Homo sapiens: one gene and its partner. The protein of the gene in region 2 interacts with the protein of the main gene of each other region in a pairwise test. Each region holds a gene or a part of one and is shown on either strand. Other genes may lie near its edges.

The links.
Region 1: the proteins of MEF2C (region 2) and EPAS1 interact in a two-hybrid assay, tested with the Homo sapiens proteins (one large-scale study listed by BioGRID and IntAct).

What each region holds. Positions count from the first base shown.
Region 1 is NC_000002.12:46,356,259-46,360,084, forward strand, and holds part of EPAS1 (endothelial PAS domain-containing protein 1), read left to right. Parts: coding exon 1-44; intron 45-465; coding exon 466-550; intron 551-3,826.
Region 2 is NC_000005.10:88,719,024-88,722,849, reverse strand, and holds part of MEF2C (myocyte-specific enhancer factor 2C), read left to right. Parts: coding exon 1-246; 3' UTR 247-3,826. UniProt on the Homo sapiens protein: Transcription activator which binds specifically to the MEF2 element present in the regulatory regions of many muscle-specific genes. Controls cardiac morphogenesis and myogenesis, and is also involved in vascular development.

The DNA of each region.
Region 1 (3,826 bases), on a different chromosome or scaffold from region 2:
TCTTTCTGTCAGAAAACATCAGCAAGTTCATGGGACTTACACAGGTGACACCCTCCTCTATCTCTTTCAAAAGAAGAAATGTTTCCATTTGGGGGTAGAAATGAGTGGAAGGTGCTAGCCACAATCCCACTTGACCTCTCCCTGCAAATGCCCACGGTGACCCTCGCTGACCTCAGGCCACACGCCTCAGGCCACGCTCCCACCCCCAAGCATTGGGTTTGGCTTTGCTCATGTCCATCCTGGTAGACAGCTCTCTACTGACTCATTAACAGACCAAGTCTCTGTCATCATCAGTAGTCCCCGATTACATCTTTCTGTCTGTGGACCTGACACTGGACTGGGATTATGAGAAAACCCAATTCAGTCTCCTCCCTGCCTCCAAATCTGGAAGGTGGCTCAGCTTACTCTTGGAGTCTTTTACTTCACTGTTAGGAATAATGATGCCTAACCTTGTTTTTGAAACAGGTGGAGCTAACAGGACATAGTATCTTTGACTTCACTCATCCCTGCGACCATGAGGAGATTCGTGAGAACCTGAGTCTCAAAAATGGTATCCTTAATTGTGTTTACTTCCTTCTTGCCCCCACTGGGTGGGAATCTGCCTCCCCTTTGTCTACGGGTATAAGGGAGATAGCTCATGGCCCTTGTGATGCAGGAAAAATGGATGTCCTTAAAAAATTTAAGTATGTAGCCTGTGAGATGAGATTGGGGCATTGAGAGGATCCAGTACTCAGAAATATCTCCTGCTGGCCCTGCATGGTGCCTGGTGTCCCACTACTAGGGGACACCTTTGGGTTAGGACACTGTCTCTAGGAGGTTTCATCACCCAAGAGTCAAGCATCTCTGCCAAATGACACCACCCAAACCAATGAGGAACTAGTCTGTGCCAAAGTGCTCATAGTAACTACTGTAGTTATCTATTGCTGTCTAACAAACCACCTATAACATAGGGCTTTGATGATTATCTCCCAGGGTTCTGTGGGTTCAGTGGGTGGGTCTTGTACTCCATGTGATGTCAGCTGGGCTGCAGTCATCTGGGGGCCAGACTAGGCTGGGGTGATCAGGATAGCTCACACACGTCTGGGACCTTGTGGCAGGTGGCTGGAACCCTGGACTCAGTTGGCATGCTGGGACAACAGGACTGTTCTCTCACTCTATGGAGACTCAGAGACTCTCCCTCTCCATATGGTGTCTCTAGGGTAGCCAGACATCTTACGTGGCAGTTTAGGGCTCCCAGAAGCACTAAAGTGGAAGCTGCCAGGCCTTCTGAAGGCTTTGTCCCCAGATTGGCAGAGCATCACTTCTGCCCCATCTTGTTGGTTAGAGCATGTTACAGGCCAGCCCTGGCTCATTGTGGGAGGAAACTACACGAAGCCATGAGTGTCAAAAGGCATGGCTTGTTGGAGCTACTTTTGGAGAAGAGCTACCACAGGAAATGGTACCCTGATGAGACGCAGGTCAAGTAGGTTTTGATGGAGAAGAGGTTTAAAAAGATGTAGCATTCAGGACCTTACCCATGGGGATACCCAGCAGGTGCCAGTAGATGAGAGGACCCACACAGGCAGAAAGCACGTTGCAATGGTTGCAATGGCAGTGGAGCTTCCTGTCTTGTAACTGTGGCCATTCAACAAAGGCATGAATAGGGACATTGTTAAGAGGACTGAAGCTTTGGTCAGAATTGGGGCTTAATGACTGTCAAGGTCCCTTCCAAACCTGAGATTCTGTCACTGGTCTGGGGAGATTCTGTGCATGTCTAGATGTCCTCTTTAACAACCTCACCTGTCACTGCCATGGGGCTTGTGCTTGTCCAGCCTGAATAACAGAGGCAGTGAGGCTAAGCCTACAAGGTTTGGCTCTTATTACCACACACGCTGCAAAAACAGACACTTCATTGGCTCACCTCCACCCTATTACAGACTGAGTCTGCAGTCCACATTTGGGCCTGCAAAGTACAGAATCACAACCACCTCCTCTTCTACCACTGCCACAGCTCCCTCACCCAGCTCCTCTGCTCTCTCTTCTGCAGGCCTTAGACCACCTGGGTCCTAGGGTACACTGGCAGAGAGCACCCTGTAGGCTGCTCAGTGTCTTGTCTGGTTCTGTGGGGAAAGGGCTACCAGACTTTCTAAAGCTCTCTAAAAAGAGGATTCATGTTCTGCATGGGTAGGTGCTTGAAGCCTGAGAAAGCCTGAGAAAACCAAAGACTGATTTCTTCTGTACTCCAGAAACCCTTTGGCCTTTGGGTTCTTAGTGTCAGTTCAGCCACTGACCATAGTCTGAGTTTGAGTCTGTGACCAGAAGCAAGTACCCTACTTCTCTGTTCCTCAGAGTCTTTCTTTTCAAATTGATGGTATTGGACTAGGCAAAGGCGACAACCTTTCAGTTCTCAAGTGCCATGATTCACAGCCAAGTGACCTCTAATTATCTGAGTAGAACTTTAGATCTCTTGATCTGCATATTGAGGACTTGGGATCAGTCAAACTCAATGCAACAGCAAATCTTCACTGAAGGTGCCAGCCTATGGGTGGACTCGTGATCTAGACCTAAAGGGTTAGTGTGAGTTCCTAGAGGAAAAGAAAGCCATGAGGCAGATTGTGGAAGGCTTTGAAGGCCAGGTGGAGGGCCTTGAACTTTATTCCATAGACAATGGGGAGCTATTGAAGGTTTCTGTGCAGGGGTGGAGTGATCTGTGTGGAGCAGTGTTTAGAAAGAATGAACAAGGCCAGGCACGGTGGCTCACGCCTGTAATCCCAGGACTTTCGGAGGCCAAGGTGGGTGGATCACGAGATCAAGAGATCGAGACCATCCTGGCCAACATGGTGAAACCCCATCTCTACCAAAAATACAAAAATTAGCTGGGCGTGGTGGCGCGTGCCTGTAGTCCCAGCTACTTGGGAGGCTGAGGCAGGAGAATCACTTGAACCCAGGAGGCAGAGGTTGCAGTGAGCCAAGATCACGCCACTGCACTCCAGCCTGGCGACAGAGCAAGATTCTGTCTCAAAAAAAAAAAAAAAAAAAAAAAAGATCAAATGTCAGCATGGGGAGAATCCAGAGGTTAGCAAGTTAAGAGGCCTCAATAATACCCCAGCAACAGCCACAAATGAATCCCTCCAGCCCCCTTATACCCAACAACTGGTCTGGTCCTGGTGGTGGGGCCAGATCCCAAGATACAGGTATATCTCATTGTATGCTAACCCCACCTCTGAAAATTAAAATGGCAAGAATCATAATTTGGTATGGGAGAAATGGTTTTATAATCGTGATGAAGGAATGTTCTCTCTTTTTTAAAAAAATTCACTATTCAGTCTGTTACTGAGTGGGGTCCCCTAAGGATGTTGAAGTTTTGTTCAAGGGTGCCACAGTTCCTTTGACACATAACTCTTCAGGAATATGTCAGTCAAGATCCTCTGGAAGTTTAAGTGCAGGGGCTGGTGACTGTTCCTGGAGGAAGGAGTGTGACTATTCGAAACAAGGCTCTAGATTGTTCTATGATGCTGGGTAGGGGGCAGGATTATATCTTTGAAAGTAGGTACCAGAGATGGTGGTGTAGGCAGGATTTAGACACAGACAAGTGGGATTCAGCTGGCACTCTTCATTACTTTGTTTTACAAAAAGTGGAAAATGGTTCTGAATCGGGAGGCTGTTTGGCAACTATAAGGAAGTAAGCTATATTGCTGGTCTTGGTGATTTAATTTTTGCTGAGAGAGAGGATATGATCCAGGTTGAGTTAATCCATAAAGTGGACTTGCTCACCAAGTCCACTGTAAGGAGATTCGTACCAGAGTTCTCTCTAGAGCCTTGATACATATGTCACTTCAGGGACAAA
Region 2 (3,826 bases):
GAACCTGTTTCTCCTCCTAGAGACCGTACCACCACCCCTTCGAGATACCCACAACACACGCGCCACGAGGCGGGGAGATCTCCTGTTGACAGCTTGAGCAGCTGTAGCAGTTCGTACGACGGGAGCGACCGAGAGGATCACCGGAACGAATTCCACTCCCCCATTGGACTCACCAGACCTTCGCCGGACGAAAGGGAAAGTCCCTCAGTCAAGCGCATGCGACTTTCTGAAGGATGGGCAACATGATCAGATTATTACTTACTAGTTTTTTTTTTTTTCTTGCAGTGTGTGTGTGTGCTATACCTTAATGGGGAAGGGGGGTCGATATGCATTATATGTGCCGTGTGTGGAAAAAAAAAAAGTCAGGTACTCTGTTTTGTAAAAGTACTTTTAAATTGCCTCAGTGATACAGTATAAAGATAAACAGAAATGCTGAGATAAGCTTAGCACTTGAGTTGTACAACAGAACACTTGTACAAAATAGATTTTAAGGCTAACTTCTTTTCACTGTTGTGCTCCTTTGCAAAATGTATGTTACAATAGATAGTGTCATGTTGCAGGTTCAACGTTATTTACATGTAAATAGACAAAAGGAAACATTTGCCAAAAGCGGCAGATCTTTACTGAAAGAGAGAGCAGCTGTTATGCAACATATAGAAAAATGTATAGATGCTTGGACAGACCCGGTAATGGGTGGCCATTGGTAAATGTTAGGAACACACCAGGTCACCTGACATCCCAAGAATGCTCACAAACCTGCAGGCATATCATTGGCGTATGGCACTCATTAAAAAGGATCAGAGACCATTAAAAGAGGACCATACCTATTAAAAAAAAATGTGGAGTTGGAGGGCTAACATATTTAATTAAATAAATAAATAAATCTGGGTCTGCATCTCTTATTAAATAAAAATATAAAAATATGTACATTACATTTTGCTTATTTTCATATAAAAGGTAAGACAGAGTTTGCAAAGCATTTGTGGCTTTTTGTAGTTTACTTAAGCCAAAATGTGTTTTTTTCCCCTTGATAGCTTCGCTAATATTTTAAACAGTCCTGTAAAAAACCAAAAAGGACTTTTTGTATAGAAAGCACTACCCTAAGCCATGAAGAACTCCATGCTTTGCTAACCAAGATAACTGTTTTCTCTTTGTAGAAGTTTTGTTTTTGAAATGTGTATTTCTAATTATATAAAATATTAAGAATCTTTTAAAAAAATCTGTGAAATTAACATGCTTGTGTATAGCTTTCTAATATATATAATATTATGGTAATAGCAGAAGTTTTGTTATCTTAATAGCGGGAGGGGGGTATATTTGTGCAGTTGCACATTTGAGTAACTATTTTCTTTCTGTTTTCTTTTACTCTGCTTACATTTTATAAGTTTAAGGTCAGCTGTCAAAAGGATAACCTGTGGGGTTAGAACATATCACATTGCAACACCCTAAATTGTTTTTAATACATTAGCAATCTATTGGGTCAACTGACATCCATTGTATATACTAGTTTCTTTCATGCTATTTTTATTTTGTTTTTTGCATTTTTATCAAATGCAGGGCCCCTTTCTGATCTCACCATTTCACCATGCATCTTGGAATTCAGTAAGTGCATATCCTAACTTGCCCATATTCTAAATCATCTGGTTGGTTTTCAGCCTAGAATTTGATACGCTTTTTAGAAATATGCCCAGAATAGAAAAGCTATGTTGGGGCACATGTCCTGCAAATATGGCCCTAGAAACAAGTGATATGGAATTTACTTGGTGAATAAGTTATAAATTCCCACAGAAGAAAAATGTGAAAGACTGGGTGCTAGACAAGAAGGAAGCAGGTAAAGGGATAGTTGCTTTGTCATCCGTTTTTAATTATTTTAACTGACCCTTGACAATCTTGTCAGCAATATAGGACTGTTGAACAATCCCGGTGTGTCAGGACCCCCAAATGTCACTTCTGCATAAAGCATGTATGTCATCTATTTTTTCTTCAATAAAGAGATTTAATAGCCATTTCAAGAAATCCCATAAAGAACCTCTCTATGTCCCTTTTTTTAATTTAAAAAAAATGACTCTTGTCTAATATTCGTCTATAAGGGATTAATTTTCAGACCCTTTAATAAGTGAGTGCCATAAGAAAGTCAATATATATTGTTTAAAAGATATTTCAGTCTAGGAAAGATTTTCCTTCTCTTGGAATGTGAAGATCTGTCGATTCATCTCCAATCATATGCATTGACATACACAGCAAAGAAGATATAGGCAGTAATATCAACACTGCTATATCATGTGTAGGACATTTCTTATCCATTTTTTCTCTTTTACTTGCATAGTTGCTATGTGTTTCTCATTGTAAAAGGCTGCCGCTGGGTGGCAGAAGCCAAGAGACCTTATTAACTAGGCTATATTTTTCTTAACTTGATCTGAAATCCACAATTAGACCACAATGCACCTTTGGTTGTATCCATAAAGGATGCTAGCCTGCCTTGTACTAATGTTTTATATATTAAAAAAAAAAAATCTATCAACCATTTCATATATATCCCACTACTCAAGGTATCCATGGAACATGAAAGAATAACATTTATGCAGAGGAAAAACAAAAACATCCCTGAAAATATACACACTCATACACACACACGCACAGGGGAATAAAATAAGAAAATCATTTTCCTCACCATAGACTTGATCCCATCCTTACAACCCATCCTTCTAACTTGATGTGTATAAAATATGCAAACATTTCACAAATGTTCTTTGTCATTTCAAAATACTTTAGTATATCAATATCAGTAGATACCAGTGGGTGGGAAAGGGTCATTACATGAAAATATGAAGAAATAGCCATATTAGTTTTTTAACCTGCAATTTGCCTCAGCAACAAAGAAAAAGTGAATTTTTAATGCTGAAGATAAAGTAAGCTAAAGTACCAGCAGAAGCCTTGGCTATTTATAGCAGTTCTGACAATAGTTTTATAAGAACATGAAGAGAACAGAATCACTTGAAAATGGATGCCAGTCATCTCTTGTTCCCACTACTGAATTCTTATAAAGTGGTGGCAAGATAGGGAAGGGATAATCTGAGAATTTTTAAAAGATGATTTAATGAGAAGAAGCACAATTTTGATTTTGATGAGTCACTTTCTGTAAACAATCTTGGTCTATCTTTACCCTTATACCTTATCTGTAATTTACCATTTATTGTATTTGCAAAGCTAGTATGGTTTTTAATCACAGTAAATCCTTTGTATTCCAGACTTTAGGGCAGAGCCCTGAGGGAGTATTATTTTACATAACCCGTCCTAGAGTAACATTTTAGGCAACATTCTTCATTGCAAGTAAAAGATCCATAAGTGGCATTTTACACGGCTGCGAGTATTGTTATATCTAATCCTATTTTAAAAGATTTTTGGTAATATGAAGCTTGAATACTGGTAACAGTGATGCAATATACGCAAGCTGCACAACCTGTATATTGTATGCATTGCTGCGTGGAGGCTGTTTATTTCAACCTTTTTAAAAATTGTGTTTTTTAGTAAAATGGCTTATTTTTTCCCAAAGGTGGAATTTAGCATTTTGTAATGATGAATATAAAAATACCTGTCATCCCCAGATCATTTAAAAGTTAACTAAAGTGAGAATGAAAAAACAAAATTCCAAGACACTTTTTAAAAGAATGTCTGCCCTCACACACTTTTATGGATTTGTTTTTCTTACATACCCATCTTTTAACTTAGAGATAGCATTTTTTGCCCTCTTTATTTTGTTGTTTGTTTCTCCAGAGAGTAAACGCTTTGTAGTTCTTTCTTTAAAAAACATTTTTTTTAAAGAAGA